Regions from separate parts of the Homo sapiens genome. Here region 2 is linked to region 1. A link means that fine-mapping ties the variant in region 1 to the expression of a gene that starts in the linked region. Tissue or cell type: whole blood. Region 1 holds a variant in brackets; the other region holds the start of a gene. All regions are shown on one strand. Distances are from middle to middle. Region 1 has its middle 6.7 kb from the start of COA7. Region 2 holds the start of ZYG11B (zyg-11 family member B, cell cycle regulator).

The links.
Region 2: it holds the start of ZYG11B, and the variant in region 1 is fine-mapped to the expression of ZYG11B in whole blood (TOPMed, PIP 0.96).

What each region holds. Positions count from the first base shown.
Region 1 is chr1:52,699,430-52,710,622 of GRCh38, forward strand. It overlaps the pseudogene NDUFS5P3. Among named protein-coding and RNA genes, the nearest start is that of COA7, 6.7 kb to the left of the region's middle. RefSeq lists enhancers at 3,449-3,990, 3,697-3,996, 3,991-4,531. The variant C/A (reference allele first, on the strand shown) is at 3,908.
Region 2 is chr1:52,719,768-52,730,960 of GRCh38, forward strand. It overlaps ZYG11B (zyg-11 family member B, cell cycle regulator), which reads left to right and starts at 6,686. Exons shown (of 14, transcript NM_024646.3): 1 at 6,686-6,916. The coding sequence starts at 6,887. RefSeq lists a silencer at 6,497-7,076.

The DNA.
Region 1 (11,193 bases):
CGAAATTGTGCCATTGCATTCCAGCCTGGGCGACAAGAGCGAAAAAGAATGAATGAGGTAGAAAAGGAACATGTCAAGGAGATGGGGAGGAGGAGAGGAAATTTACCTACATTTTGCTTTGTTTTCCTGCTCCTGTTCCTGCTAAGAATCATCAGTTCCATAAAGCTTAGATGGAAAGTTCTCCTAAGACAGCCACTTCCTATTCGTCTTTTTTTTTTTTTTTTTTGAGACGGAGTTTCGTTCTTGTTGCCCAGGCTGAAGTGCAATAGCGCGGTCTCAGCTTACTGCAACCTCCGCCTCCCAGGTTCAAGCGATTCTCTTGCCTCAGCCTCCCGAGTAGCTGGGCTTACAGGTGCCCACCACCACGCCCGGCTAATTTTTTTTGTATTTTTAGTAGAGACAGGGTTTCACTATATTGGCCAGGCTGGTCTTGAACTCCTGACCTCAGGTGGTCCGCTGGCCTCGGCCTCCCAAAGTGCTGGGATTACAGGCGTGAGCCACCACACCCGGCTGACTTCCCATTCATCTTTGAATTCCATCCAGCCCTACTTTTGAATTCTCAATGGAGCTAAATCCATGGCTTCCCATCGCCTATAACAATGCTTTCCAAATGGCTCCATTATTAAGCTATCCCCAATGGCAGCAAAGAATGGACTATTTCCAACCACTTATTTATTGGAAGGCAGCCAATAATGTCTGAAATCCCAGTTTTATTTTTTAAATTCATAGGATTTTACATTCATTTCCCCATAATACATCTTTCATAGGATAACAGAAGATTGCCTTTTCTCCCCCAAGCCTTTGAGTAAAATTGACATTCCAGGCAATATACCACATTTACCTGTGGTTTCTTATACCCTGATCACCTTAGGGGACTCCTCAGTACACATGGCCCAGGATGGGAATCCTTGAACTTTGGTTTGAGGTCATCTTCTTTAGGATGGCCTTCAAGACCCTGTGCAATCTGATTCTAGCCTTATTTTCTGCCTCTCTTCCCCCACATCCCACCAACCTTCTGTTCTCTGAATAGATCCCAAGTTTGTGTCCCTGTTTACCTCTGCTCTTGATGCCTGGACCACCCTTTTTGACACAAATCGGAAATACTCTCCTATGTAAAGTCTTCCCAGACACAACAATTACACACATTCAAATTAGATTTAGATGCTCCCATTTTGGTGTTCCACACCACTTGGTTTATTCTGGTATAGTGTAGTAGGAAAGAAAGAACTGGCTTTGGAGTGGGGACAGATCTTAGTTCAGAATCCATGTTCCATGTTTATTAAATTGTAACCTTAAACCAATCATGTTTGTGAGTCTGAATCCTCTTCTGTAAATGCAGATCCATTTGTAATGGCTGTCAGAAGGACTACAAGTTCATGTATGCAATGTGCTTGGCAGAGCGCCTGGCTCAAAGTCATTCCTGTTCCAGGAATGTTTCTTGTCATGCCAATAATGGCATGAAAGTCTGTGTTCCCCACCAGACTGTGACCTCTGTGTCCTGTATGCTGGTCACAGGGCCAAGAATAGAATAGGGCTTGATGATAGAATAGAGCAGGGTGATGTCGATTACTAAAATCTGGGAATGTTTCCCTTTATTTTCTGAGTTGAACTGCATTGAAATGAGATCACCTGAGCGGTAGAGGGCACAAGAGAGTTAGTTGGTGATGAGAGGCTCAACCAAGTAAGAGGTCACTTTTTTTTGTTTTGCTCTTTCATCCAGGCTAGAGTGCAGTGGCGTGATTTTGGCTCACCGCAACCTCCGCCTTACGGTTTCAAGCAATTCTCCTGCCTCAGCCTCCTGAATAGCTGGGATTACAGGCGCCCACCACAATGCCCGCCTAATTTTTGTATTTTTAGTAGAGATGGGGTTTCACCATATCGGCCAGGCTGGTCTCGAACTCCTGACCTCGTGATCCGTTTGAACTAACTGTTGCCTCTGCCCTAGAGTGCTTTTCCCCTGTATTTTTTTTTTTTTTTTGGCTTGCCTTCTTAAGTTCTCTGCTTCAATTTGACATCGTCCATGTGGTCTTAGCTCATTCTTGTTATAATAACAGTGTCTTGATTGTGCCCAGCAATATTAGGTGCCCAAGTATTGTTGACTGAATTAAGAAGAGGGATTATCATTCCAAATAATTTGGTTTTCATTAATGGAACTTAGAATATCACTGACTCTTGCTCTTTTGACCCAGGTTTTTCTTAAAGCTATAAGAAACATTAAATGAAGGTCTAATTGACATACAGGAAACTGCACATAACTTTAAAGTAACAATTATGAGTTTCTACATATGTATACACCTGTAAACCATTATCACAATCAAGATAATGAGCATATTCATCACCTCAAAATTTCCTCATGTGACTTTGTACTTCATTCCCTCCCCAGCAACCATTAATCTGCTTTCTGTCACTGAAGATGGGTTGCATTTTGTAGGATATTATCTAAATAGAATGATACAGTAAGTACTGTTTCTTTTTGTATAGTTTCTTCGATTCAGCATAATTATTTTGAGATTCATCCATGTTACCACACGTATTAATAGTTCATTCTTTTTCTTAGTGAATGACATTTCATGATGTAGATATATCACAATTTGTTTATCCATTTGGGTTTCCAGTTTTTGGCTTACAAATAAAGCTGCTGTGAATATTTGTGTACGTGTCTTTGTATGGGCATTCATTTCCATTTTTGGGGTTCATACCTAGGAGTGGAATGGCTAGATCATATGGTAGGTATATATCTAACTTTAAGAAACACCCAAACTGTTTTCTAAAGTGATTCTACCATTACATTCTTACCAGCAGTGTTTGACAGTTCTAGTTGCCCTACATCCTCACCATAATTTGATGTGTGGTCAGTCTTTTAAAATTTTAGCCATTATAGTGAATATAACAGTATCTTATCATAGGTTTAGTTTGTATTTTTTTGAGTGACCAATAATGTTGGCATCTTTTCATGTGCTTATCTGCCATCTGTGTATCTTTGATGACATGTTTGTTAAAATCTTTCGCCCCCTTTTTATTGGATTGTTTTTTATTATTGCATTCTAAGAGTTATTTATATATTCAAGTCCGTTATCAGAAGTTTTGCATATATTTTCTCCCAGTTTGGCCTGCCTTTTTTGTTTTTATAACAGTGTCTTTCAAAACCAAAAGTTTTTCATTTTAATGGTGTGTCTAGTTTATTGATTTTTTTCCTCTTGTTAATAGTTTGTGCTTTTTCTTTCGTATTCAAGAAGTCTTTGCCAAACCCAAAGTCACTAAGATTTTATCCTATATTTTCTTGTAGAAATTTTATGGTTTAAATCTTATATTTAGAAAGCCTATGATCCATTTCAGATTAATTTTTGTATGAGGTATGAGATAACAGTTGAGGTTCACTTTATTGCATGTGGGTTTATAATTACTCTAGCACCATTTGTTAGAAAGATTATCCATTCTCGGCCTCCCAACGCGTTGGGATTACAGGCGTGAGCCACCGCTCCAGGCCTCGGGATAGGTCTTAATACCTCCTTTTTATAAAGGAGGTCCAGATAAGTAAAGTGATTTCCACCAGGTCACACAGCCCGCTAAACCTCTCCCAAAGGGTTACACGTTGGTAAAGGAGCCGCCCCGTGAGAGAGACCGGACCAATCACGTTTGCTGTGAGGTCACTTTGGAGGCCTGAGATTGGTGCTCGTGTCTAAACGGACCCGATCTTTCTGAGTGGCTGGTGCAGCTGAGGGAGGTTCCAGGTGGCTTGCTCGGGGGCTGCCCAGCTCGCCGTCCTCTGCAGATCCCCTCGGGACTCTCAGCATTTTGTGGGTTAGCCGTGGAGACGCCCTGCCCTTCCTGCTTTGGCCAGTCAACCCCCTCAAGCCCGTGCCCGTAGAGCCTGCAGCCCTTCCTCACCTCATCACTCCCCATCCCC[C/A]CAAGATATAGAAAGGCCGTGACAGCTGCCAGCCCTGCACATGCTCTTGTTTCAACAGCGGCGATTGCACATCACGTAGTCCCCACGTGACCTGTCGGGCCTAGGGCAAGCGCAAAGCTTTCGGAAACCCGAATTATTGCAACCTTGACTTCCTGCCTGTCTCTGAGGCTCCCGGGCTGTGCTTTAAGCTGGACAGGCACCTGCTTTACAGGGAAAAGGACCAAGGTCCGGAGAGGAAAGGGGCTTGTCCCAGGATACGCAGCAAGTTAGTGACAGCGTCATACTCTTCCCTCTGGGCAGGCACCTGTAGTCCCAGCTACTTGCGAGGCTGAGGCAGGAGAATTGCTTGACCCCAAGAGGCAGAGGTTGCAGTAAGAAGAGATCACACCACTGCACTCCAGCCTGGGTGACAGAGTGAGATTCTCTCTCAAAAAAAAGGGCCAGGAGGCCGGTGTGGTAGCTCACACCTATAATCCCAGCACTTTGGGAAGCTGAGGTGGATAGATCACCTGAGGTCAGGAGTTCGAGACCAGCCTGGCCAACATGGTGAAACCCTGTCTCTACCAAAAATACAAAAATTAGCTGGGCATGGTGGCGGGTGCATGTAATCCCAGCTACGTGAGAGGCTGAGGCAGGAGAATCACTTGAACTGGGGAGGCAGAGGTTGCAGTGAGTTGAGATCGTGCCATTGTACTCCAGCCTGGGCAACAAGAATGAAACTCCATCTCAAAAAAGACAAAGAATAAAATTAAATTAAATTTTAAAAAGGCCGGGCATAATGGCTCATGCCTGTAATCCCAGCACTTTGGGAGGCCGAGGCAGGTGGATCATGAGGTCAGGAGTTAAAGATCAGCCTGGCCAAGATGGTGAAACCCCGTCTCTACTAAAAATACAAAAAAATTTGCTGGGCGTGGTGGCATGTGCCTGTAATCCCAGCTACTTGGGAGGCTGAGGCAGAGAATCACTTGAAACCGGGAGGCAGAGGTTGCAGTGAGCCAAGATCGTGCCACTGCACTCCAGCCTGGGCGACAGAGTGAGACTCCATCTCAAAAAATAAAAAATAAAAATAAAAAAAGACATTTGCTGGAAATAAGCACTGGAATAGAGGTTTCAATACTAATTACTGTTCTGCCACTTCCATAGTGTTTGTTCAGCTTTGGCTAAATCCATTCTCTTTTATTCTCTTTTTATATCCTCAGTCTTCTCATCTGTAAAATGGGACTCCCAATCTCTACCCCACCTTGATGCTGGGAAAAGACAAACCAACCTCAATACCGAAGTTTAAAGGGTGTTTTACATAACCATGAAAATGTTGTCTTGGCCAGGTGCTGTGGCTCATGCCTGTAATTTCAGCACTTTGGGAGGACAAGGTGAGAGGATCCCTTGAGCCTAGGAGTTTAAGACCAGCCTGGGTAACATAAAGAGACCCCGTCTCTACAAAAAATAAAAACATTAGCCAGGTGTGGCAGCATGTGCTTGTAGTCTTAGCTACTTGGGAGGCTGAGGCGGAAGGACTGATTGTGCCCAGGAATTTGAGACTTCAGTGAGCCATGATTTTGCCACTGCACTCCAGGTGGGATGACAGAGTGAGACCCTGTCTCAGAAAAAAAAAAAATTACCTCTCAAGAAGAACTGCTGAAAGCAGTGAAGGAAATAAGGTTTGTATATCTCTTTGCAAACCTTAAAACACTGTAAAAATTAGGTAGCACACTATTTCTAATGAGATAACTTTTTTTCGGGGGGGGGGGGGGGGCGGAGTTTTGCTCTTGTTGCCCAGGCTGGAGTGCAATGGCGCGATCTTGACACACTGCAACCTCTGCCTCCTGGGTTCAAGTGATTCTCCTGCCTCAGCCTCCTGAGTAGCTGGGATTACAGGCATGCGCCACCACACCGGCTAATTTTGTATTTTTAGTAGAGACAGGGTTTCTCTATGTTGGTCAGGCTGGTCTCAAACTCCTGACCTCAGGTGATCCACCCGCCTTGGCCTCCCAAAGTGCTGAGATTGCAGGTGTGAGCCTCCGCGCCTGGCCCTAATGAGATAACTTATAGAACATTGTATGACTTACAAAGGCTGGACCTCAGACTACACTTTGAGTACCCAAGAACTAAATCCTTGCTACTCAAAGTGTGGCTTGAGGAACAGCAGCATCCATATCATTTGAGATCCTAGTAGACATGGAGAACCTTGGGACCCCCACCACACCTACTGAACCAAAATATGCATTTTAAAAGTTATTATTATTTTCTTGAGATGGAGTTTTGCTCTTCTCACCTAGGCTGGAGTGCAATGGCACAATCTTGGCTTACTGCAACCTCCGCCTCCCAGGTTCAAGTGATTCTCCTGCCTCAGCCTCCTGAGTAGCTGGGATTACAGGCATGTGCCACCACGCCCAGCTAATTTTTGTATTTTTAGTAGGGACAGAGTTTCACCATGTTGGCCAGGGTGGTCTCAAACTCCTGATCTCAGGTGATCCACTTGCCTTGGGCTCCCAAACTGCTGGGATTACAGGTATAAGCCACCGCACCCGGCCTAAAATTATTATTATTTTTAGAGACTGGGGTCTCATTATGTTGCCCAGGCTGGGCTCAAGCAATCCTCCCACCTCAGCTTCCCAAATAGCTGGGACTACAGGTGTGAGCCACACTGCCTGGCCAGAATATGCATTTTACTGAGATCCCCAGGTGACACAGATACACAATAAACTTTAAGAAGCAATGCTGTAAATCACAGGATACATGCACTGGAATGATTTTGAAAATAATCTTCAACTCCCTCATTTTACAGGTGAGCGCACTGAGCCCAGGAATGAAAGGGACTTGTCTTTCTAAAAGAGCTGTGTCACCCCCATTTGGAAACCAAAGGCTCCACAATGCCCGCATCCTTAGCTCAGCATTCCAGGCCCTCCCATCTGGCCCCCGCCAACCACTCCACTTGCTACTTCCCCACCTATACTAGACAAACCAATCCCTCTGACCCACTCCTCTTCTCTGAACTCCTCAGGCTGTTTTGTCTGTGTGGGCTGCTCTTTCCACGTCTCTCCAGTGTCAGTTCAAACTATGTTGCCCGACCACCAGTCCTTGTCTAGGATGCCTTCCTAACCCCTACTGGTTGACAGTGGGCTGTGGTTAGCCAGCTGAGGGCTCCTCCACTTCCTGAAGCACTGTGGTCATCGCCTGTTTTACCAGACTGGGAGCACCTTAAGGATAGGAACCAAATATGATTTCTTTATTTGCCTTCCAGGTCCCAACACAGAGTGAAGCACTTTGTAAGTGCTCCGTTTATGCTATGTGGTTAATAACTTATAACAATGCCTCCAGATCTAATTTTTTTTTTCTTTTTTTTTGAGATGGAGTCTCATTCTGGCCCCCAGCCTGGAGTGCAGTGGCGCGATCTCGGCTCACTGCAACCTCCACCTCCTGGGTTCAAGCAGTTCTCTACCTCAGCCTCCTGAGTAGCTGGGATTACAGACACCCACCACCACGCCCGGCTAATTTTTTTGTATTTTTTTTTAGTAGAGAGGGGGGTTTCACCATCTTGGCCAGGCTGGTCTTGAACTCCTGACCTCACGATCCACCTGCATCAGCCTCCCAAAGTGCTGGGATTACAGGCATGAGCCCCCGCGCCCGGCCAACTTTCTGCTTTTAAGACTATGAAATCCCAAAGAGTAGGGACCTGATATTCTCTGCCTGCTCCATCTCATTCATGAGACTCACGTGCCAGAGCACAACGGGCATGTGTTCACCACCTAAGCTGGCTGGCTCGGCTTCTGATTATAGCCATTCCCATAATGTGTGTGTGGACCCAGCTCACTGCAGCATGCTCATGGAAATCCAAATGAGGAAGAAGGGTTGCAACACCAAGGACAAGGAAGGGATCAGGTTTTAGGACAAATCATCTCAAGTCAGGGGTGAGATTTACTGCCTTCTAAAAAAAGCTCACAAGATTTCAGGCTGTGACCCCAAAAGTCTATTCCTGAGCCCTCCTGCCTGCACATAAAAACTGACACAGTGAGGTGCTCAGCCCATGTTGTTGAGTGAAAAAACTAATCTGGACTTCTAAATGTAACCAAATACTGACTGTCAGAAAAAAGCAGTTGTGCCAGTAGAGAACTGGAACTAAATGTCACATGGCATTAAAGTCTACGCCCCTAACCTTTGGCCACAAACCTTGCTATCCGCCCCAGCCTGCCTTTCCAGCTTGTTCTCTTCCCTCCCATACACACTCTTTGAACCTCATCCCAAATTATTTGTTGACCCTATAAACATCACCTGCTTTCACGTTCCAGTGCCTTCACACATGTGATTCCCTATGCCTAGAATGCTCTTCCCTCTCCGTTAATTAAGGTAATTATTTTTCCTTCAAAACCCAGGTCAAGGCCAGGCACGGTGGCGCACGCCTGTAATCCCAGCACTTTGGGAGGCCGAAGCGGGCAGGTCACCTGAGGTTGGGAGTTCGAGACCAGCCTGACCAACATGGAGAAACCTTGTCTCTACTAAAAATACAAAATTAGCAGGGCATGGTGGCACATGCCCATAATCCCAGCTACTTGGGAGGCTGAGGCAGGACAATCGCTTGAACCCAGAAGGCGGAGGTTGTGGTGAGCTGAGATTGTGCCATTGCACTCCAGCCTGGGCAACAAGAGCGAAACTCCGTCTCAAAAAAAAAAAAAAAACCAACAACAACAACAACAACAACCCAGGTCAAGTAGTGCCTGTTTCAGGAAGCCTGCTCTGACCACTGACTGCCCCCACCACCAGGCTGGTTGCCTCTGTGCTTTAGCAAGTGCTCTGCTTCCTTTTTTTTTTTTTTCTTTTTTGAGACAGGGTTTCACTACGTTGCCCAGGCTAGAGTGCAGTGGCTATTTTACAGGCATGACCATAGTGCACTGCAGCCTCAAACTCCTGGACTCAGTCTATCCTCCCGCCTCGGCTTCCTGAGTAACTGAAACTACAGGCATGAGCCACCACACACAAACATGCTTCTTTTTATAAGAGTACTTACCATGTTCTTTTTCTGTTGTCTTCCTTCCCTTCCTACTAGACTTGAGTACCTTGAGGGCAGGGCCTGGGTTTTATCTATTTCTGTGTCCTCAGTGTCCAGCACACAGCATGACACAAAGGAGAGGTATTTATTGAGCACATGCCCAGTGAAAAGAATGTGCAGTAAAAGAGTTATCATCAGTTAGGGAATTTACTCCCACACTGCCAAGGAATTCCTAGTTTAGGAAAGGCTCTTTTTGTTGGAGAATAAATTATTTACAAGCATCTGACCTCCTAGGAAAAGGCTAGAACAGTGAATAGTAGATGACAGGTGAGAATGACTAGGGAAGTATAATTTTATCACCATTCCAAAACACACATACATTGTTCCTGGTAGATGCATAATCTGTAGGAGATGGACACAGCACCCTCTTATAGAAGAGTCCCCTGGGCCGGGTGTGGTGGCTCATGCCTGTAATCCCAGCACTTTGGGAGGCCGAGGTGGGCGGATCACCTGAGTTCAGGAGTTTGAGACCAGCCTGGCCAACATGGCCAAACCCCGTCTCTACTAAAAATACAAAAATTAGCCAGGCATGGTGGCACACACCTGTAGTCCCAGCTACTCGGGAGGCTGAGGCAGGAGAATCACTTGAACCCAGGAGGCAGAGGTTGCGGTGAGCCAAGATCATGCCACTGCACTCTAGCCTGGGTAACAGAGTGAGACTCAACCCTGTCTCAGAAAAAAAAAAAAAAAGTGGGGGGGTGGGGGCCAGAAAAGAGACAAGGGCATAAGCATTGGATCGCCATGCCTTTCTTGGATGTGCTGAAAAGGTTCAGCCTTAACATAGATTGATGGTGGACAATCCAAAGTGCTGAACAGCCCTACAAGATTCCTGCTCGATGCCAGGCTTTTCAAAAAGAATGGATAGAATGTGCACATGGAATCGTTAGTATCCAGGCAGAGAAGGAGTGCAAGATAGAATATGATGATTTTGTAGAGTGTATACTTTAGCAGAAAACGATGAGACGTCTGAGTACCATTAGGAAGCAGCGGGATAAGCTGATAAAGGAAGGGAAGTACACCCCTCCACCTCACCATGTGGACAATGCAGAGCCTTGGCCCTGAACAGAGCAGCTGCTGATGTCTGGAGGCTGATTTTCCTGTTCTCTGTTCTCCACTGGAAAGGTTGTTTACAGAAAACCTCCTTGTCAAAGTGTGTAAAAATAAAGGATTGCTCCATTCCCCACCCCCCAAAAAAATAATGTCTAGCTTGCAGGATTTGCAGGAGGATTTTATAATAATAGCCAATGCTTATATAACAGTTATATCTTGCCAAGTCCTATTTTTTTCTTTCTTTTTTTTTTTTTATTTTTTGAGATGGAGTCTTGCTCTGTCGCCCAGGTTGGAGTGCAGTGGCACGATCTCTGCTCACTGCAACCTCTGCCTCGGGGGCGCAAGCAATTCTCCTGCCTCAGCCTCCTGGGTAGCTGGGACTACAAGTGTGCACCACAACGCCTGGCTAATTTTTGTATTTTTAGTAGAGATGGGGTTTGGCCCTGTTGGCCAGGCTGGTCTTGAACTCCTGGCCTCAAGTAATCCACCCTCCTTGGCCTCCCAAGTTCTGGAATTATATAACTAAGCCACTGTGGCTGGCCTTGCCAGGTCCTATTTTAAGAGCCTTCTATATGTAATAGTATAAATATATAGTAACTCAGTTAATCTGCTAGATGCTATGAGTTAAGTAAGATTATCACGCCAATTTTATAGGTAAAGAAACAGACACGGCTGGGTGTGGTGGCTCATGCCTGTAATCCCAGCACTCTGGGAGGCCGAGGCAGGTGGATCATGAGGTCAGGAGTTCAAGACCAGCCTGGCCAAGATGGTGAAACCCCATCTCTACTACAAATAATAAAATTAGCCTGCAATGGCAGGCGCCTGTAATCCCAGCTACTCTGGAGGCTGAGGCAGGAGAATTGCTTGAACCTGGGAGGTGGAGGTTGCAATGAGCCGAGATCGCGCCACTGCACTACAGCCTGGGAGACGGAGTGAGACTCCATCTAAAAAAAAAAGAAAAGAAAAGAAACAGACACACAGATGTGTCACATAAATTCTCTAAGATCACATGGCTAGTAAATGTGGAGCTGGGAGTGAAACCCAGGCAGAATGGCTTGCTGTAGAGTCCATGCTCCTAACAAGTACTGTATTCCATGTCACCCCTCCAATAAGAAAATTACATAAAAGTGAAGGTGTCTGCCCATAATAAGGCATAACAAATATTGACAATAAGAAAGGTAATCCAGTGCCC
Region 2 (11,193 bases), 20 kb after region 1:
GCCATGCCTATAGTATCAGCTACTTGGGAAGCTGAGGTGTGAGGATGGCTTGAGCTCCAGAGTTCAAGGATGCAGCGAATGATGATTGGGCCACTGTACTCCAACCTGGGCAATAGAGTGAGACCCTGTCTCTATAAATAAATAAAATAAAAATAAAACATTAAGTTGTTTTCAATCTTTTGCTATTACAAGTAAGGCTTGAGCATGTGTATAAATTAAACTTTTAAAAGTGAAATTGCTGAAATAAAAAAAGGGAAATTGCTGGGTCAAAGGGAACATGCATTCAGACAAGTTATAAATGCCACCGTTAAATTATCCTCCATAGAAGTTATCCCAATTACACTCCCAACAACAAAATATGAGCATACCTGTTCAACATCACCCCTCCTTTCCACACAGTATCTTATCAATCATAGATCTTTGCCAATCTGACAGATGAGAAATGGTAATTTCAAAGAAATTCTAATTTGCCTTTATCTTATTATTATAAGTAAGAGTGAGCATTGAAGAGCCATTTCTATTTCTTTTTCTGTGAACTATCAGTTCACATCTTTTGTGCATTTTTCCCCTTGGGTTTTGTTCTTATTGATTTCAGCTCTGAATACAAATATAAACATTATTCATTTTCCTATATGAAATGCATACATATATACATATAGTCATTTGTTATCTGACTCTACTTATGGTGACTTTTGCCTTACATTTTTTATTTCTACATAGCTGAATTTATCAATCTTTTCTGTTATGGCATCTTGGTTTTGTTTTGTACTTATTTATTTATTTATTGAGACGGAGTTTCCCTCTTTTGCCCAGGCTGGAGTACAGCGGCGCAATCTTGGCTCACTGCAACCTCCGCCTCCCGGTTTCAAGGGATTCTCCTGCCTCAGCCTCTGGAGTAGCTGGGATTACCACCATGCCCGGCTAATTTTTGTATTTTTAGTAGAGACGGGGTTTTGCCATGTTGGCCAGGGTGGTCTCGAACTCCTGACCTCATGATGTGCCCACCTCAGCCTCCCAAAGTGCTGGGATTACAGGCATGAGCCACCGTGCCCAGCTCTTGTTTTGTACTTAAGAAGACCTTCCTTACTTTAAGATTCTAAAAAATTCTCCCATGATTCTTTCTTCCAGTATGTTATGGTTTCCTTCTTTCTTTTTTTTTTTCTTTTTTTTTTTTTTTTTTTTTGTGACGGAGTCTCGCTCTGTCGCCCAGGCCGGACTGCGGACTGCAGTGGCGCAATCTCGGCTCACTGCAAGCTCTGCTTCCCGGGTTCACGCCATTCTCCTGCCTCAGCCTCCCGAGTAGCTGGGACTACAGGCGCCCGCCACCGCGCCCGGCTAATTTTTTGTATTTTTAGTAGAGACGGGGTTTCACCTTGTTAGCCAGGATGGTCTCGATCTCCTGACCTCGTGATCCACCCGCCTCGGCCTCCCAAAGTGCTGGGATTACAGGCGTGAGCCACCGCGCCCGGCGCTTCTTTCTTTTTTACTTTTTTTTTTTTTTTTTTTTTTTTTGAGACAGAGTCTCGCTCTGTTGCCCAGGCTGAAGTGCAGTGGCGCGATCTCGGCTCACTGCAAGCTCCGCCTGCCGGGTTCACGCCATTCTCCTGCCTCAGCCTCCCGAGTAGCTGGGACTGCAGGCGTCCGCCACTGCGCCCGGCTAATTTTTTGTATTTTTAGTAGAGACGGGGTTTCACCGTGTTAGCCAGGATGGTCTCGATCTCCTGACCTCATGATCTGCCCACCTCGGCCTCCCAAAGTGCTGGGATTACAAGCGGGAGCCACTGTGCCCGGCTTTTTTTTTTTTTTTTTTTTTGAGACGGAGTCTCACTCGGTCATCCAGGCTGGAGTGCAGTGGCTCGATCTTGGCTCACTGCAATCTCTGCCACCCAGGTTCAAGCGATTCTCTTGTCTCAGCCACCGGAGTAGCTGGGATTACAGCCGTTGCCTGTAATTTTTGTAGTTTTAATAGAGACGGAGTTTCACCATCTAGGTCAGGCTGGTCTTGAACTCCTGACCTTGTGATCCACCTGCCTTGACCTCTCAAAGTGCTGGAAGCCACTGTGCCCGGCCTAATTTTGTATTTTTAGTAGAGATGGGGTTTCACCATCTTGGCCAGGGTGGTCTTGAACTCGACTTCAAGTGATCTGCCTGCCTGGGCCTCCCAAAGTGCTGGAATTACAGGCGTGAGCCACCATGCTCGTTCTTCTTTTTTACATTTTAATATTTGATATATTTGAAATTTGTCTTGGTGAATAGTGTGAAGTATAAATCCAAGTTAAAATTTTCTAGATGTCTATCCAGTTATTCTAACACCAAATACAATTCCAACTTTTGCTTTCTGACTTGAAATGCTACCTTCAGTATTATACTAAATTCCTAGGTAATTTGGATGTATTTTTGATCTGTTTGTGCTTCATTGATTGCAAATCAAGCAAATCAACTGTGACTCCATTCTTTCTTGATTGCAGAACTCTTATTTATTTATTTATTTTTGGAGATAGGGTCTTACTCTGTCACACAGGCTGGAGTGCAGTGGCGTGATGATGCCTCATAGCAGCCTCGACCTCCAGGGCTCAGGTGATCCTCCCACCTCAGTCTCTTGAGTAGCTGAAACTACCACCATGCCCAGCTACTTTTTGGTATTTTTTTGTAGAGATGGGATTTTGCCATTTTGCCCAGGCTGGTCTCAAACTTTTGGTCTCAAACCATCTGCCTGCCTTGGCCTCCCAAAGTGCTGGGATTACAAGTGTGAACCACCTTGGCTGGCTAGAACTCTAATTTTTTTTTCTTTCTTTTTTTTTTTTTTTTTTTTTGAGAAGGAGTCCCTCTCTGTCGCCCAGGCTGGAGTGCAATGGAGTGATCTTGGCTCACTGCAACTTCCGCCTGCCGGGTTCAAGCGAGTCTCCTGCCTCAGCTTCCTGAGTAGCTGGGACTACAGGTGCGCACCGCTACACCCAGCTAATTTCTTTTGTATTTTTAGTAGAGATGGAGTTTCACCATGTTGGCCGGGCTGGTCTTGATCTCCTAACCTCATGATCCACCCACCTCAGCCTCCTAAAATGCTGGGATTACAGGCCTGAGCCACCACACCCAGCCCAGAACTCTAATTTTTAATGACGATTTTCCTCCACTACAAGGAAGTCCTTAGGGAAAGTAACTCACAGATCAGACGGAGAGTAAATCATGATTGGTCTAAGCTACTATTGTTGGTCCTATTCTCTTTGGTATTTATTGGCTTATCCATGGTACTTGAGGGGAAGTCTATTGAGTAACTACTAAGAAAAATTGTAGCTTACTAGACATATAAGGGGATATGTTTAGCTGGCAGTTAGATATTTAAGTATGAAATTCAGAATGCAGATATAATTTTGGGGTTATCACAGCATAGATAATATTTAAAGTAATGTGTTGGGATAAGATTATCAAGGAGTGTACATGCAAAAGACAAAAAGTCGAAATATTGAGCCTTGGGGTACTACAGTATTTAGAGGTCAGAGAAATGAGGAGAAACTAGGAGCAGCCAGTGAGATAGAAGACCCGAGGGGGTGAAATGTCATGGTAGCCAAGGAGGGGGAAGTAATGAGCTGTGTCTAGTGATGTTGGTAGGTCAAGTAACACGAGGACTGAGAATTGACTGGTGTCAGCAAATGGACACCACTAGTGACCTTGACAAGGGCATTTCAGTGGAGTGGAGGAGGTAAAAGCTTAACCAGAGAGGATCTCACCGAAAATGAGAAAAAGGAAGTCAAGGCCAGGCGAGGTGGCTCATGCCTGTAATCTCAGCATTTTGGGAGGCCAAGGCAGGCAGATTGCTTGAGCTCAGGAGTTCAAGACCAGCCTAGGCAACATGATGAAACCTCATCTCCACAAAAAATACAAAAATTAGTTGGACGTGGTGGCACATGCCTGTAGTTCCAGCTACTTGGGAGGCTGAAGTGGGAGGATTGCTTGAACCCAGGAGGCTAAGGTTGCAGTGAGCTGAGATCGCACCACTGCACTCCAGCCTAAGCAACAGAGTGAGACCATGTACAAGCCACCTTTGTGAGACATTTTGCAGAAAAGAGAATGGAGAAATGGGGCAGTAGGTGGGGGGTCAAGTCCAGTCAAGAGAGGGTTTTTTTTTTTTTTTTGAGGTGGAGTCTCGCTCTGTTGCCCAGGCTAGAGTGCAGTGGCGTGATCTTGGCTCACTGCAACCTAAGGAGGGTTTTTTTGTTTGATTGTTTTAAGATGGAAGAAATAAAATCATGTTGCTATAGCAATGAGAGGTAATAGCAGAAAAATAGCGATGTAGGTGAGAGGAAGAATTGCTGGATAGGTGTCTTTGAGAAAGTGACGTGGTATGAGACCTAGTACTTGAGCTCCTCAAAGTGTCATCAATGGACTAGTGACCATCTAGAAATGGTTTTTCACCAGTTTGTGACAGCAATTCAGAATTAATATTTTGAAACTTTTATAACAATTTGACAGAAAAATGTTACGCGTGTTGGGTTTAATAATAAAAATTCTGCCTAGAGTAGTCAAATTCATAGAGATAGAAAGCAGAACAGTGATGGCGAGGGATTGGGGGAAGTTAGGAATGGGGAGTTATTGTTTAATGAGTACAAGCTTTCAGCTTTGCAAGATAAAAAAGTTCTGGAGGCCTGGCACATTGGCTCACGTCTGTAATCCTAGCACTTTAGAAGTCTGTGGCAGGAGGATTACTTGAGCCTAGGAGTTTGAGACAAACCTGGGCAACACAGTGAGACCTTGTCTCTACAAAAAAAAAAAAAAAAAAAGGTAGCCAGGCGTGGTGGTATGTGCCTGTAGTTCTAGCTGCTTAGGAGGCTGAGGTGGGAGGATCGCTTCAGCCCAGGAGTTTGAGGCTGAGTGAGCCGTGATTGTGCCACTGTACTCCTGATGGGTGACAGGGTAAGAACTTGTCTCAATAAATAAATAAATAAATAAATAAAAGAAAAAATAAAAAGTTCTGGAGCTTCTTGATGGGGATGGTTGCACAACAATGTGAATGTATTTAATACCATTGAACTGTACACTTTAAAATGGTTAAGCAGGTTTAAAAAATCTGGGCTTGCATTTTGGATGCTTGTTTTTAAATTTTAATTTTTTCTAGTAATTAATTTTGATTGTATTTTACAGAAATTTAGTTTTGTGATTGGGGATAAAATCTGGGTCTTTTAGCACAGATGCTTGAGAACTGAGGAGGATTTGATGTTAGCTAAAAGACAAATAATTAACTTGTAGTAAGGAAAGGAAGGCAGAGAGAGCATCAAAGCAGAGTTACAGGTTCGTTGGAAGTCATGGTGGGTGCTGGGAACTTGTAGATGTTCTTTTTGGTTTGTTTGATTTTCTTGTGAATTAGAAGCAAAATCATCAGCTAAATGAGATGAGGGAGGAAGTGTCGGAGGTTTGAAGAGACAGGAGACTTGAAATAGTTATGTAGCAAGGTGGGAGAGTGTGTGAAACTGGAGAAATGTGGTAGGGTAGCCACTCATTATGGCCTCTTGAGAATAATGATCTCAAATTTACGGGGAGTCAGTCAACCACTTTTGGCTTTTTCTCCACCCACTCCATTGCTGGAGTTCTGTCAGTACAAAGAAAGCAGAGAACGACTAGAGAAATGAAGGTAATACTGAAGAAATCGACTTCATGTACCTCATGTACTCACTTTCTTCCCCAAACAGCTTAGATTCTATTAGATTCCATTTCATGACGGACGATAGAATCTAAGCTGTTTCAGGAAGAAAGTGAGTACATAAGGCCAGCGTGGGGAGGAATAGCGAAAAGGTAGTTGGATCAATGGATTTGGGGTCTTGGAGTTGAAGTTTTTGGAGTTGGAGTATTATCAGACAGAGTGAGCTAGAAAGGAAGAAGGTTGTGGCCGGGCGCAGCGGCTCACGCCTGTAATCCCAGCACTTTGGAAGGCCAAGGCAAGCGGATCACCTGAGGTCAGGAGTTCGAGACCAGCCTGGCCAACATGGTGAAGCCACTTCTCTACTAAAAATACAAAAATTAGCCGGGTGTGGTGCCGGGTGTTTGTAATCCCAGCTACTCGGGAGGCTAAGGCAGGAGAATCACTTGAACCCGGGAGGTGGAGGTTGCAGTGAGCCAAGATCGCACCACTGCACTCCAGCCTGGGCAACAAGAGCGAAACTCCATCTCAAAAAAAAAAAAAAAAAAGAAAGAAAGAAAGAAAGAAAGAAAGGAAGAAGGTTGCAATGGGAGTTAGAGGATTAAAATTGAGATTGTAGAGAAGTTACAATTATTCGTATGAGCATGAGAGTGAGAGGCTGAGCCAAGAATGATCCCTAGAGAAGAATCTGAGAGGCCAGAGGATTGGAAGAATTAAGCGAATTTTGAAATAACCAAGAGTTATGACAATAGTAGTAATGAATGACAGTGAACCAGAAGCCCAAATCTTAGAGAATGATGGTGAATGACAGAGGAGTCTATAGGTGACCGAAGTGAGCGATGCTCTAATCTCTCGTCATGATGTAATATTTAAAGCTTTTCATATTTTGAAGGGATGCTAGGATTTGGGGGTGTGTGGCTCCTTTAAGGGCCTGGGAGGGGGAGAAGCTGGAGGTCGGGCTGGGGGGGGCGGGACCCCCTCGTCTGAGTCTGCGCATTGAGAGCGGAGGCGGGTCCAGGCGCGGGCTCGCGCGCCCGGGCGGGTCCTCGCGGGGGCGGAGTCTGCGCTCTGGTTCGGGCTGCGGCTGCGGCTGCGGCTGCGGCTGCTACTGCTACGCTCCTAGCTTGAGGGAAAGAGGCCGAGGCCTGGGCCAAGCCCGGAGCCGCCGCTCGCCGGAGCCTCCTGGAGCCTCCGCGCCGGCTCAGCCTGGGGGCGGGCTCCGGTCCGGCCCGCCGCCGCACCCAGGACGGAGGCTGCATGCCCGAGGACCAGGCCGGCGCAGCCATGGTGAGGGAGCAAGGCCTGCCCTAGCCGCAGCCGCCCGCCACCCTAGCCCCCGCCCGTCGCGCTGGCCCCTGCGGTCTTGCCCCTCCCTGTCTCTGGTGTCCCCTCGGGCTCCCTGCCTTTACCTCTCTCCCTCGTTACCGCCCCCTCGGTGTTCAGCTCCTCCTTCCCCATTCACCTGCTTCGGTGAACCCCTTTAGGTGACACCCCCTGAATCTCCCTTCTCCCCGATGACATCCTTTTTATCACCCCCAGTGACAGCCTTTTTCGCATTCCCTTTGTCGCCCACTCCTTGTCCTTTAACCCTAACCCTTCCTTTCTTTCTCCTCTATCATTTTGCCTTTTTTCCTCTTATGTGATTTTTACTTTCCCCCCTTTCCTCCCTAGTTTTCGCTGCTCTTCCTTGCTCTTCTCACCCCTCTTCACCATTTTATCTCCACTGCCCCCTTCTCTCCGTGTTCCTTCTCCCCTTCGTCCTCTTCCATCCACGTTTCCTCTTCCCTTATCGGATGTCCTCGCTCGGTTCGCCGTCGCAGCTGTCCCCATTTCCTTCTACGGGCTTCAGGGGTCTAAGCAGGAACAATTTGAGGACTGTTGCTTCCCGGGAGCTGTAGGGCGGGCAGATAGGGATTTATAGGTTTGCTTCTTCCTTTTCGTTTTTGGAGGCATTGAAGAGATCCTGGAAGCCTATTCACCTAGTGTCATTGCAAAATCGAAGTGGTGGTGTGTTACAGAGCAGTGAAGTGAGGGCCAGCATGCATACTGTGACCTCAGGAGAGATCTAGTCTTTTGACAGAAATAGCTAAAAAATGTTTTGAATTTTTTTTATTTTGAGCATCTTTTAATGTGGAGGTGCAGTTGGAGAAGTTTAAAAATACTTATTTACAAGCTTGGCTATTATTACTAAAAACAAATGATTTGTTTTCATTTGGAGGCAGAGACCAAGGGCATTTGAGGACTGACAATCAGGTTGGCAGGTTGTGACAGTCTCTTTAAACCTTCTAAAGAGTTCATTTGTTTTGCCCTGTCTGCCTTTAGTTGGGAGAACCTTATATTTGCAAATTTTCTTTCTGTCTGAAAATAGGTTGAGGCTTCAGTTGGTTTTTTCATTGAGTTGGGTTATAAGTGGTTTGCTGTACATTTATTGAAAACATTGCTCCATCATATGCAACAAGCTAAATTTTGGTCTCTGGGAGGAATAAGGCAAAACTAAGTCCTGATAATTATGTTCCCCTAGGAGGTTAGTCAGTTTCTTTTTTTCCCTCCAGCAGTTTTTTAGAAAAGTAATATACTATAAAATTATTTAATCTATGAATTTTCCCTAACTCACTCCTGCATTTTTAGTCTGTCATTTTCCTGTGTTTGTCTCCTTCACTTTCACACACTGTTGTTGTATGCTAACCTGTTTCTCCCTGTGGAATGTAAGTTCTAGGTAGCAACCGTTCCTTACTTATTATTCCAAGTGCCCAGGCCAGCTAGGTGCTTGAATGATTCACTTTATGGTCTCATTTCCCACCTGACTAATATAAACTTAAACTGAAATTTGAGGTAACTAGTGGACTACACAGAAAGAGTGAGTTTGAGAATTGTTGTTTGGAGACGATCTTGCTCTGTGGCCCAGGCTGGAATGCAGTGGCACAATCATGGCTCTTTGCAACCTTGAACTCCTGAGGTCAAGTGATCTTCCCACCTCAGCCTCACAAGTAGCTGGTACCACAGGCACGGACTACCGTGCCCCGCTAATTTGTAAAACTTTTTGTAGAAATGGAGTCTTGCTGTGTTGCCCAGTCTGGTCTTGACCTCCTGGATTCAAGCCATCCTCCCACCTTGGCCTCCCAAAGTGCTAGAATTACAGGCATGAGCCATCACGCCTGGGCAGAGAATCTTAATTTTGATGCAAAAATGATATTGAGTGAGGTATGATGATATACTTTTCAGAATAAAGAGCTATCCTACCTAAGACATTACACTGCTAGATTTTTGAAAGTGTGGGCCCTTCCATTGAGAATGAATGTATGAGAGGGAGGAGTTATGAACTCCCCTTTGAGGTATTTAGGATCTAAAAGTGTCCTTTGAGCTGGGCCTGAAAGTTGAATAGGATTTATATAGATCATTTTGGGAAGGGGAAGAATGCCTCATTGTGAATGTGAGTAGCAAGTAGAAAGGATCCCCTCACAGGGATTTTTTTTTTTTTAAGAAAGAAAGTAGGAAGGAATTAGGATGCATTGTAGGAAGTAGTATTACCCTTATATAGCATGGAAGGATGCAAGAATGGAGATGTGTAGTAGGAAATGAGGCTAGCAAGATACTGTCTTAGCCCATTCAATCTACTGTAACAAAATACCATAAACTAGGTAGCTTGTCAGCAACAGAAATTTATTTCTCAGAGTTTGGAAGGCTGGGAAGTCCAAAATCAGTTCCCCAGTGGATTCAGTGTCTCGTGAGGGCTCTTCCTAAGTCACCTTTTCACTGTTTTCACACATGGTGGCAGGGGCCAGGCAGCTCTCTGGAGTCTCTTTTATAAGGGCACTAATCCCATTCATGTGGGCACTAACTGGTGATCTAATCACCTCCCAAAGGCCCCACCTCCTCATACCATTACCTTGGGGGTTAGGATTCCAACATATGAATTTAGGGAGACAGAATTCAGACCACAGCAGACATATTAGGCATGATTATGTTTTAAACTTTGCATCTAATTAACTTGATTTTTCCTTGCTTGTTAAAACATATACACACAGAGTAACAGTGTATGTATGGGAGAGGTGAGGAGAAGGCAGAATATTAGCTTATTTTGAGCTAGGAATTATCAGTAGAGGCCACTTTCTCGTGCAATATTTTTGTAGATAATAAATACAGTTGAATGAATGATTATTATAAAGCTTTGTATTTTATATTTGTTAAATGTTAATTAGGTTGTGTTTGAATAGTTGAGATGTTTAAGATGTCAGGAGTTCGAGACCAGCCTGGCCAACATGGCAAAGCCTCGTCTCTACTAAAAATACAAAAATTAGCTGGGTGTGGTGGCACATGCCTGTAATCCCAGCTACTCGGGAGGCTGAGGTAGGAGAATCACTTGAACCCAGGAGGTGGAGGTTGCAGTGAACTGAGGGCAGGGCCTGAGAGGTGGCAGTTCTTTTTTTTTTGAGGCAGGGTCTTGCTCTGTCCCTAAGCTGAAGTGCAGTGGCATGATCACAGCTCACTGCAGCCTTGACTTCCCAGGCTCAAGCGATCCTCTCACCTCAGCCTCCCAAGTAGCTGGGACCACAGGTGCCCATCATCACACCTGGCTAATTTTTATATGTTTTGCAGAGATGGGGTTTCGCCATGTTGCCTAGGCTGGCCTCAAACTCCTGGGCTCCAGTGATCCTCCTGCCTCAGCCTCCCAGAGTGCTGGAATTATAGACGTGAACTACTACAAAAGTTTGCATTTCTGTCAAAACCCACATAATGCTGATGCTGCTGGTCTGTGAACCACAATTTGAGAACTACTGGTCTAAGACATAGTCCTTACTTTTAATTAATCTAATAATGTTTTTGGAGTGTCTTTGACTGTGTTGACACTGGGGAAATGACAGATAGTAAAATAGATGTGACCTCTGGCATTTTTCATCTCATGTATATAGAGTAATTTTATTTTATTATGTATTTATTTATTTATTTTGAGATAGGGTCTGGCTCTGCCGCCTAGACTGGAGTGCAGCGGCGTGATTACGGCTCATTGCAGCCTCAAACCCCTAGGCTCAAGCAGTCCTTCCAGCTCAGCCTCCCAAGTAAAGCTAGGACTTCAAGTGTGCTCTATTATGTGCAGCTGATTTTTTGTTTTTGTGTAGAGAAGAGATCTCCCTGTGTTGGCCAGGCTGGTACCAAACTTCTGGCCTCCAGGGATCTTCCCGCTTTGGCCTCCCAAAGTGCTGGGATTACAGGCACAAGCCACTGCATCCAGCCTTCATACAGTAATTTTAAATGTGAAGAGTTTTAATATATCTTGAGTGTGCTGAAAAAGGACAAGTTGATAGCTGGGCATGGTGGTGCATGCCTGTAGTACCATCTGCTCTAAAGCCTGAGGTGGGAGGCTCACTTGAGCCCAGCAGTTCAAGGCTGCATTGAGTTATGATCATGCCACTGCACTCCAGCCTGGGCAACAGAGCGAGACCTCATTAAAAAAAAAAAAAAATAGAAAGGAAAGAAAAGAGAAGTTGTGGAATAATGGAATGGAATAGTTAGGAGTAGCTTTGCAGAGGGTCTTACTTTCAAGTAGAGAACTGAGGGATTAAATT